Homo sapiens: one gene and its partners. The protein of the gene in region 1 purifies or fractionates together with the protein of each later gene. This does not show direct contact. Each region holds a gene or a part of one and is shown on either strand. Other genes may lie near its edges.

Region 1 (4,338 bases):
AGATTAGAGTCAGCACCCAAAGCATTTGGGGGTTTGGGGGATTTTTTTTAACTGACAGCTAAACTGCTGTTTATCATGTGAGGTAATGCACGTGTCAGTTAGCTAGATTTAATCATTCTACATTGTCTGTATTCCACAATGTATACATACTTCAAAAGATTACATTGAACTCCTAAAGCATTTAAATGGGGACTGGCTATGAGGCCCTCCCCATTCAAATGCTTCCCTCAACTCGCAGAACACAGCCAAGGCCTGAGGCCATGGAGCAGAAGAGGCAAATACCGGCAGGTATCTGAAGAGAGGGAGGAAATGGGGAAGTGCACCTGCAAGGCTCTCGGTGCAGCCCTCCCCAGAGCTGAGGGTCCACACCTGGGCTGGGAACTGAGGCTGGGACTGGGAAAGAGGTTTTCTTCTATGCCACCCTCAACCAAGAGAATGGAAGAGTCTTGCTTGGGTTCTTAAGCAGACGCCAAGCAGGTCTATGGAAGGAGAGATAAGCGGAAGTTCCAACATGCTTTATTTGAGGACGAGCGCTCACCCGGGATGGAGTAAGAAGTGGGATGGGAGAAGCGTAGGGTTCAAATTTTCTTTGTGTCTCTGTGATCCTTAAAGCATCTCAGCAAGCTGTAGAGATGGTATTAAGGGGAGAGAAAACTTTGAGATGACAAGAGGAAACGTTAATACCATTCTCACTCCAATGAAACCCATGACCACTTTTTAAATGTCCTACAGAATCACTGGGTGAGATAAGTAAGATCACTGTTTCAATACAGATGGGGAAAGATAATAAATAAAGAAGTCTTGGTTTTCTTCATTTGCAGGGAGGATTACCAGGGTAGAAATGGGTAAAAATCGGTAAATAACTATTTACTACTGTCTCTGGTGTTTTCTCATAATCAAGCCACTTAAATACCTCCCTACTTTTCCCTCAACTCCCAGAACAAAGCCAAGACTTTGGTACCAATTTCTTCGTGCTTTTCCTCAAGCAGGTAACTAGGAGTATCCCTACTCCAGCCTTGTGCCCCTAGAACTGGGCTGGAGCTCAGAGACTTAAAATGACTCATGGCAGCTGCCTTCCCCAGCTCAGTGATAAGGTCGCCCCTGCCAAACACTGGAGACCAAAGCCCAGGTCCATCACTCCCATAGTGACTCCTCCCATAAGCTCTGCCTCAGCTGTGAAAGGCAAGAGGGAGAAGGGGAGTGAGGCTCTTGTTCCTCCTCACCTAGTGGGAAGATATGCCTCTTCAAGGTCCCACCCCAGCCAGGGAGGAGAGGGCAGGCCTCAGGCAGGGTGTGGACACAGCTGGTTGACACTCAGCTCAGCTACAGATCGGCTCAGCCACAGTTGGGCCGGCCTGAACCCCAGGTGCCCACCAGCAGCAACTTGGCCCCCTTGCTCTACCTTCTCACCATTCGCCAGCAGTGGGTGCAGGCAGCCATCATCTTTCCACAAAGATGTTCAGTTGGAGGAATGAGAGGAGCCACCAAATGAAAAAGGTACAGGTTGAGCGTCCTTAACCCAAAGATCCAAAATCAAAAATGCTCCATAACCCAAAACTTTTTTTTTTTTTGAGTTGGGTTCTCCCAGTGGCGTGATCTCGGCTCACTGCAACCTCCGCCTCCTGGGCTCAAGTGATTCTCCTGCCCCAGCCTCCAGAGTAGCTGGGATTATAGGCACCTGCCACCATGCCTGGCTAATTTTGGTATTTTTAGTAGAGATGGGGTTTCACCATGTTGGCCAGGCTGGTCTCAAGCTCCTGACCTTAAGTGATCCACCCACCTTGGCCTCCCAAAGTGCTGGGATTACAGACGTGAGCCACCGTGCCCAGCCCCAAAACTGTGAGCACCAACATGACACCACAAGTGGAAAATACCACACCTGACCACAATCAATACTTTGTTTCATGTACAAAATTATTTAAAATACTGTATAGAGTTACCTTCAGGCTACATGTATAAGGTATATATAAAACATGAATGAATTTCATGTTTAGACATGAGACCTACCAAGATACCTCATTATGTATATATGCAAATATTCCAAAGTCTGAAAAAATCCAAAATCTGTAACACTCCTGTCCCAAGCATTTCAGATAAGAAACGCTTAGCCTGTCTTGGGAAACAGCAGCCACTGGATGGAAAGGGGCAGCCAGTAGCAGAGGCCTCAGCCCCTGCCTTCATCCTGAGAATCTTCTGTAACAAAAGCTGCCAGCTTTCAGGGAAGAAAAAGAATTCTGTGGCCTTGACTTAAGCCCAGAGAAACAGGAACTGCCAAACCTTGTTACCCAGCAGAACAGACAGAGAGCTGACCTGGCTCCATGGCAAAGCAACAGGAGAGCCTGGAGAGGTTCAGTTCAGGGCCAGCAGAGCCAGGCTGGGTGGGAGGGCTGTCACTGAAGCAAAGTGACACACATCCTAGAAAGAGACATCAGGGGACCACAAGAGTATTCTCTTTTTTTAAAAAAGAAAAAGATAAATGGGCACATATATACAAAATACTGTCAATTTCTACTGGGCCAACACAGTAGCCACTGCAATGTTTCTCCTTCTTCCGGAGCTTTCCTCCCATAGTCTCACATGTACTCCTGGCACAGCCACAATACCAGTCTCTGGGAAGCATATGTCACCTACTCCACGTGGGTCCCATTCCAGTCACCACAGATGGAAGCACCTGAGCCTCCTTGCCAGTCTTTCCCTGCAGAGTCACTGCACTGGCAGGGAGCTGGAGTGGAGCACGTGGTTTTCCTGTCCTATATCTCCTCCCCCCACCGCAGATAATACTGCTTCCTCGGGTGGCCCTTGGGGCAAGTCATCAGGCTTTATGGGCCAGGAGGGTGGTCAGCTTGATCTTGCCATCCATGGAGGCGGTGAGGCAGGTCCCACAGTCCATGGCAGTGCTCCAGTCCACGGTGACCACAGGGGCTCGGTGGCCACCTAGGCTCAAGCAGCTCTCCAGAACCTTCTCATCGCCACCCAGCTGCAAGAGGACAGGAAAGAGGAGGAGGTGTCAGCAAACACCAGTTACACACACTTGATCCACTTTCAGTGGCCTACCTGAGGATGTGCCTGAGGCCAGACACACATGCCCACCTTTCCAGAAAGTCTGTTTAACTTTTTGAACCAGGAAATGCTTGCACTTTCCCAACTACAGCTGGTCCATCTGAAGTGGAAAACAAGTCCCTGAGCGGCTCCTTAAAAAAAGGCATTTTCTCAGCTGCCTTGAACTTGCTGTGGGCTGGTGCCTCTTGCACGCACACTGGTTGTTCTCACTACAGCATCACTTCTCACTACCTGGCAGGTGCTCATGAATCTGCTTATTTGTTGAAGGTTCATGTCCCATACTGGGGAATGCAAGCTGCAGGAGAGCAGGGCCTCGGGCAGCTCTCTCCTGCCGGGGGGCCAGCCTGCCACACCCAGAACAGTGCTGGCCACAGGGGAGCCTTCAGTTAGTGCAGAAACATGGCTCTCCTCTGAACCCCAGCACTAGCTAGCCAGCGATCCTTTGTCAAAGGCATCTCCACAGCCATGCAGCTCGGGGTAGAGGGCCTCGCTCAGTAGCCATGGCCCAGACCTCCAGGGAGGAACCCCTGCCCACCACAATACCACTACCTCCCACCCCCAACCATCAGTTACCTTGTAGATGACGCCGCCTGTGGCAGAACATGTCAGCATGTAATTTCCCTCCGAGTCAAAAGCGAAGAGTCGGCCCCTGGGGACTTGAACCTGCTTGTAGCCGCTGTATCCAGACAGCACAAAGGGGCCCGTGGCATCTGAGGGGAGGCTGTACTCGGATACCTTGAGGCCACTCTTGTGGATGTTCCACTGGATGAACTGCAGTCACAGGGCACAAGCAGGGTGCTCGCAGCGGAGCTGGCCAATGCAGGCCTCAAGGAAGAGCCAGGACCCACCCCACAGCAGAGGCTGGCGAGGGCGACCCGCCTCCCCCAGCCACAGTGCTGACATCCTTGAAAAGCCTTTCAAGTGCCAGAGGCAGAAAAGTGGGTGAGAGGTCTACAGGTCCTATCTCTGGTCAACATGATTTAAGCATTTTTTAGGGAAGAAAATCTAGAAAAAGAGGCAGCAACCTCACATTAAAGTCCAACCCTTCTCTTTCTCTCTGGCCTGACCCTAGGAGAGGAAAAGGGACAGCAAGTGGCTTTGCCTGGATTCCTGGTCTCTCAAGCAGGAGGAATGCTTCAAGTGACATATTATTATTATTATTATCAGAGTTAGACCCCAACTAGATTTTTCTATCCTAGGAACAAGGTACAGAGGACAAAGTCCACATATATTTCCAGTGTTTCAGGCATATAATCAATTGAACACTGGGCGATGCCA
Region 2 (3,073 bases), on another chromosome or scaffold:
CTCTCCTCTCCAGAACCTCCCACATCATGGGGATGTATGTTGGGATCACGCCTCCCGCCATCTCTGTATGTCCCCTCCTCAAGGCTGTGACAGCAGCTCAACCCTTGGCTGTGCTGGGAGATGAACCTGCTCCCGCTCCCAGCCCTGCCAGGCAAGGACTCCGAGTGAAGCTTGTTTGGCCACAGAGCTGCTTGCCTTTTTCCCTGACCATCAGAAGGGAGGCCAGAGCTGACAGAACCTAGGAGTCAGAGACAAAGAACTGGGCACTCCTAGATCCTTCTGGATTGGTCGGTTAACTGCTGGGTTCCTTTGGACAAGTCACTTGGCCTCTCTGAGCCTCAGTTTCCTCTCTGGCCAACTGAGTGTCGCCCCATCTCACAGGGCTTAGGGGAGGTGGCACATGCGTAAAGTCCCGTCAATGCTAAGGTGCTCTGCGGAAGTGAGAGTTGATGTCAGAGAGTAAGGGTGGGTGGGAGGCAGAGGGAGCCGGGGAAGGATGAGCTGGGGCCGGACAGGCCAGATGAACCCACTGCCAGAGGCGGGCATCAAAGGGCCAAATGGGAGGCCCACGCCTGGGAAGCTGTCTCACCACACCCGCTGTACACGGGCGGCTGAGGACTCAGGGTCCTGCCATCCCAAGGACTCACAATGTGCTTATTCCACAGGCATTTTTCACTCTCGCCAGAGATATCAAAGCAAAAATGGACAAAAAATTGGTGAGTGTGTGTCCTTCCGAGATCCCCGGGTGGATCTCTGGGATCCAGCCATCGTCGTTAGCAGCAGTGATATGACGTGCCCTAGATCCTGCTTTTTAGGGCCCAGCCAGACCCCATGGGACATTGCTGGGAAAGGGGGAAGAGTTTGCAGGTGTGGCTGGGGCATCAGCATCAGGCAGTGCCAGCCTGGGGACGCTGCCCAAGCAGACAAGGCCGTGCCCGGTGAATCCCCAGGCTAGCAGGGAGCACACGGCCTTTTCCATTCCACTCAAGGGCCAGAAAGACAACATGGTGTGCAAGGACAGAGAGCCATGGCTCGGAGAAAAGCTTCCTAGGTCGCTTGGGCAGGGCCAGGGCTGGTGTCTGATAACTGCTGGCTCATCGTCTTGACAAGCATGGCAGATCAAGAACCTGCCCCCGCTCCACCCCAGCCCCAGATGCTACAAGTTGTGACAGCTCTGCAACCTTCATTGTGTCCCAGGGTTCTCTGAGGCCTCCAGGGAAGTCTGCATGAATCCCTACCCATCTACCCTCTCATTCGTTTCTTGCTTTTTTTTTTTTACCACGTTAGCGATTTCCTAGTCCGCTGCGCTCAGTATCAATGGTGCTTTCTTGATGGAATCAAACACTTCCCTGTACTTTGGGGGCATTTAGTGCCTAAACACCGTAGTGACCCTTCCTCCCTCGCCCTGGTTCCAGCAACTGCCCTTTCCCGGCCATGTTACATTGGTTGTCCAATCGAGGAGCACACGGCGCTCTATTTGTGGGTTAAGTCTGGTCACTTGAGAATGCACATAAAATACAAAATGCCGTTCAAGTTTTACATCTGATGTAAGCAAATCTGTTTTGTAATTCTAAGATGCGGTGTGTTGAACAGTGAGGCATGTGATTGATTTAATAGCAGCTCTTTGGCCATTAAATTAAAATGGGAAACAGTTCATGGAAACCAGTGCACTGACCAACAATAATTTGGGATTTTCTTGCAATTTTTTTTCTTCAGTATAATGGTCAAGGTCTGATTCTTTTTTCTTTTAGTTTTCTTATTAGTTAAAAAAGAGATTTTTTTTTTAGAGTCTCACTTTGCCACCTAGGCTGGAGTGCAGTGGCACCATCACAGCTCACTGCAGCCTTCAACTCCTGGGCTCAAGCAATCCTCCCACCTCCGCCTCCCAAGTAGCTGGGGCTATAAGCACACACCACCATGCCTGGCTAATTTTTTTTCTTTTTCTTTTTTTTTGAGAAGGAGTCTCGCTCTGTTGCCCAGGCTAGAGTGCAATGGTGCAATCCCTGCTCACTGCAACCTCTGCCTCCCAGGTTCAAGCGGTTCTTCTGACTCAACCTCCCGAGTACTTGGGATTACAGGCACATGTCACCACGCCCAGCTAATTTTTGTATTTTTAGTAGAGACGAGGCTTCACCATGTTGGTCAGGCTGGTCTTGAACTCCTGACCTCAGGTGATCCACCTGCCTCGGCCTCCCAAAGTGTTGGGATTACAGGTGTGGGCCACCCCGCCTGGCCATTTTTTCTTTTTTAAGAGGCAGGATCTCACTTGTTACCCAGGCTGGACTCAAACTCCTGGGCTCAAGCAGTTCTTCTGCCTCAGCCTCCCAAAGTGCTGGGAAGGGTATGATGGGGTGGGCAGATAAGTGAGAGAGTGGTTGGAAGGGGTGGTATATAGCAGATGGAAAATAGATCTGTTTCTGAAAAACGAATTATCAGTTGTAAGAGAATTGGATGGATGGGTAGAAGATAATGGATGGATGGTTGGTTGAAAGGGAATAAATCGATGGTTGATTTGTTGGAAGGAGATGGTTGGATAGATAGATGATTGGTTTGTTGGTTGGTTGGAAGGGGATGGATGAATGGTTGGTTGGAAGGAGGTGGTTGCTTGGAAGGGGATGGATGGATGGTTGATTGGTCAGAAGGGGTGGTTAGAAGGAGATGGTTAGTTGGAAGAGGGTGGATGGGGGGAAGGAGATGGATGGGTGGATGGATGGTTGGAAAGGGATGGATGGATGGTTGGTTGGATGAGGTGGTTAGAAGGGGATGGATGGTTGGTTGGTTGGTTGGAAGGGGATGGATGGTTGGAAGAAGATGGATGGTTGGAAAGGGATGGATGAGTGGATGGTTCTTGGTTGGAAGGGATGGATGGTTGGTTGATTGGTTTGTTGGTTGGAAGCAGGTGGATAGACGGATGGAAGGGAATGGGTGAGTGGATGGATGGATGGTTGAAAGGGTATAGATGGATGGTTGGTTGGTTGGTTGGTTGGTTGGTTGGTTGGTTGGTTGGTTGGATGGTTGGAAGGGGACAGCTGGACGGACTGGCAGATGATGGATGGATGGTTTGATGGCTGAT
Region 3 (3,650 bases), on another chromosome or scaffold:
CTAAACTATCTCACGCTCCACTGAGTCTTCCCCCACCTGGCTTCACAGTTCTAATCTGTCCACTCTCAGGAGTCTCCTCTCCCCTCAACTTCAGGCACACAATAAGATGATACACTTTGGCCTTTGTCATCACTCAGAACTCTGCTGGCTTCTAGTTCTTCAACTCCAAAATTCCACTCTGACTGCAATCTTCATAGCAAACAAATTACTTTTGGTACTCATCATGCTCTTTAATCTGTCTTGACCTAGCCTCATAATCCAGCAGCCCCCTGTTACTCACTTAATTTCATAATCTTGATCCCATGGTTCAGCTATCTTAATGATTTTGTCACTAATATTGTAGATTCTACCACCAACCCATACCTGCTGAACAATCACCAACTCTGGATGTGGCCCATCATTTCTTTTTTTTTTTTTGAGACAGGGTCTCACTCTATCACCCAAGCTGGAGTGCAGTGGTGCAATCTCAGCTCACTGCAACCTCCGCCTCCCAGGCTCAAGCAATCCTCCCACCTCAGCCTCCCAAGTAGCTGGAACTATAGGCTTGCGCCACCATGCCCAGCTAATTTTTGTATTTTTGGTAGAGGTGGGGTTTCATCACGTTCCCACACAGGTCTTGAAGCGGCCTCAAATGATCTGCCCACTTCAGCCTCCCAAAGTGGTGGGATTACAGGTGTGAGCCACTGCACCTGGACCCATCATTTCCTTTTCTTGCTCTATAACTACTAAGCATAATGCTAAAAATAGTAAAATAAACTAAGAAAGTACATAATTTCCAAATTCTTTAATGAGTATGGATTACTTTTACAACTAAAATAATAATGATAATAATAATAGAAAAAAGAATTTAAAATATTGATTAGAGAAAGCTCTGGGCATTAAAGTTAGACTAGTATCTAAGTAACTAATACTACATACATTTCTAAGCACACGTATAAATTACTACCCGGATCATTAGAAATAAATCAAGAAGTTTACGGTCTATTCAATATATATTTTCAAACACTAAAGTCTAAGCATGAAAATCCAATCCAAAGTCCTATTTTAGTCAATGGTGTTAATATCGTTAAAAGATTAAATGTGTATAATTTGTCTCGAGAAGGAATCGATTTACCTGGAGTTTGTACTACAGCATGCAAATTCTTTTCTTGAAGTTGTTGAATTCTTTCATTCTTAGCTTTGCTCTCTTTCTCCAACAGTTTGAGTTTATGAGCATATTGGTTATTCAGAAATTTCAGATCAGCTGTTTCACGTGCACATTTCTTCAATGAAGTTTTCAACTCTTAAAATGAAAAAGATTCAAAGACCGTTTTAAAGATCAAGAAATCCAATGAAGTTTTTCCATTTCACAAAATACAAAAAGTCATATCAATTTAAAAGTCTCCACCTGCTTCTTATGCATGCTTTAGTTGACACTTATTCCTTCTTCTACTATTATTAACAAAACTGCAAATAACTCACTAAGCACAAAAGAGAATCTTCATTTTTCAGCTACTGTATTAGCCTAACGTACATCATAGCTTTTGATCCAGTAAATTGGGTCTGAAGCTAAAGGATTATGAATTCATACCATGGATTAGATAAAGTTTTCTACTGAATATAAGAATAATTCATACAAAGATAACCATATAATTATCTTTTCCCTAGTACCTTTGAAATCATCCTATTCTACTTGACAGCTCAAAGACTGACTATAAAACAGTCAGCATGATACATGGTTTTCACCTTATTTACTACTTTTATTTTCAGTAAGGGAAAAACAAAAGTTGTTTCAAGAACATTTCTTCAAATCCAGCATTTAATATTCCCTATGGCAATTTTAATTCTAAAATTTTAATTAAATTTTTAATTCTAAAAATTTAATCCACATATAGTGATTATCATAGCTATATAATGCACATTTATTTTCCTTCTCAGGAACTCTTCAACATACCCTATAGTATTTCAGGGGCTATTAGCAGAAGGAGTACCATATTTTCTTTTCTTTTCTTTTTTTTTGAAACAAGTTCTCACTATGTTGCCTAGGCTGGTCTCAAACTCCTGGGCTCAAGCAATCCTCCCACCTTAAACTCCCGAGTAGCTGGGACTATAGGCACACACCATCCAGCTGTAGGACTACTATATTTTCTAATCAATAGTTTTAAAATTAGACGTTAGCTTTTCCTTCTAAAATAAAAAGGACAAAGACATTGCATTTTAAAAATTATCAAATTTTCACTTACCTTTAACGTGTTGGTCTGAATGTTCTCTCAGTTTCATTAACTCTAGGTATAATTCATTATTTTCTCTACTCAATCTTGCATTTTCAAGTTTATAGGGTTCCAAAACAAAATCAAAATTGGCACTTTCTTTTTCAGCTTTCACAGCAGATAATTTTGATTGCCGAAGGCTCTCAGTTGTATGAACTAAGTCGCTAAAAGAACAGAAAATTTAAATACCAGGAAATATTTCATTAACTTTCTAATAACTAAAAACATATTTCTAAAGAGGCTTAAAATACAGTCATGCACCACATGATGACATTTTGGTCAACGACAGACCACATATAGGAAGGAGAGTAGTCCTGTAAGATTTATAATGGGGGCAGCTGAAAAATTCCTATTGCCTCATGAGATCTGGCCATTGTAACACTGTAGCACAACACAATACCTTTTCTATGTTTAGATATGTTCAGATATACAAATAGGCACCACTGTGTTAACAATTACCTACAGTATTCAGTATAGTAACATGCTATACAGGTTTGTAGCCTAGGAGCCATAGGATACAGACCATATAGCCTAGGTTTGTGGTAGGCGACACCATCTAGGTTTGTGTAAGCACACCCTATGATGTTGGTACAACGAAAAAATCACCTAATGATGACATGTTTCTCAGAACGTATCCCTGTCATGAAACTATCCATGACTGTATTTGAAGACCAGTGAAGCAGACATAGAACTTAAGGGGGGGAAAAAAAAAGAACTTAAGGGAAAAGTGTCTCTCAATTATATCAGAAACCCAAAAAACTGTAATTCCATTCACAGAGAAAACCCCCAGAAATGTTGACTTTGAACAGTACAGCGTGAGTGGTGGCCTTTAGAGTTCTGCCGTGTGGAAGGCCTGGATTGAGGACAGGGAAAAAACAGATAAGCTTCATGATTGAAAGCCTTTCCGGAAAGCTACCCTTTTCTTTACCAAAGCATGAAGTTCAATCAGAAATGAGGTAAGTGGTTAGGGATCATAAAGGTTGAAAACTGTATTTTTGTCTTTACCTGAAAAGTTTTTCTACCAAAGGTAAACACTCCACTGTCAGAGTCTGGCGGTATCCCAGCTGATCCAGCCTTTTCCTAATATTAATATACTTTCTCTCTACAGCTGTAGTCATCTCGTCTTCTAAAACAAGTTTTATTCACTTCCAAAAATTAAAGTCCTGAGAGAAAAGAATGAAACATCATTATCTTATTATAGCTATGATTGTTGTTTCACAATAAGAAGAAAAAATTATTTTAATATGAAGCAATTATTTTTTGTTTTTCTTCAGGTAGGTAGCCTTCTGGAAAATTCAGATTTAAAGCCAATGCTTATGATATTCCTGTTACTGCATTAAAATAAATACTTCCTCATACAACTAAATGTAAAAGTTAAAATCCTAAAGCTTCTAGGAGAAA

Evidence for each region.
Region 2: the proteins of WDR91 (region 1) and RAB8A purify together in Homo sapiens (co-immunoprecipitation; 2 studies listed by IntAct). This does not show direct contact.
Region 3: the proteins of WDR91 (region 1) and CEP135 purify together in Homo sapiens (co-immunoprecipitation; one large-scale study listed by IntAct). This does not show direct contact.

The regions. Positions count from the first base shown.
Region 1 is NC_000007.14:135,183,339-135,187,676, forward strand, and holds the end of WDR91 (WD repeat-containing protein 91), read right to left. Parts: intron 3,832-4,338; coding exon 3,634-3,831; intron 2,978-3,633; coding exon 2,813-2,977; 3' UTR 501-2,812; downstream 1-500.
Region 2 is NC_000019.10:16,128,889-16,131,961, forward strand, and holds part of RAB8A (ras-related protein Rab-8A), read left to right. Parts: intron 1-665; coding exon 666-716; intron 717-3,073. UniProt on the Homo sapiens protein: The small GTPases Rab are key regulators of intracellular membrane trafficking, from the formation of transport vesicles to their fusion with membranes.
Region 3 is NC_000004.12:55,951,848-55,955,497, reverse strand, and holds part of CEP135 (centrosomal protein of 135 kDa), read right to left. Parts: intron 3,413-3,650; 5' UTR 3,368-3,412; coding exon 3,255-3,367; intron 3,108-3,254; exon of another isoform or gene 3,027-3,107; intron 2,414-3,026; coding exon 2,223-2,413; intron 1,283-2,222; coding exon 1,115-1,282; intron 1-1,114. UniProt on the Homo sapiens protein: Centrosomal microtubule-binding protein involved in centriole biogenesis. Acts as a scaffolding protein during early centriole biogenesis.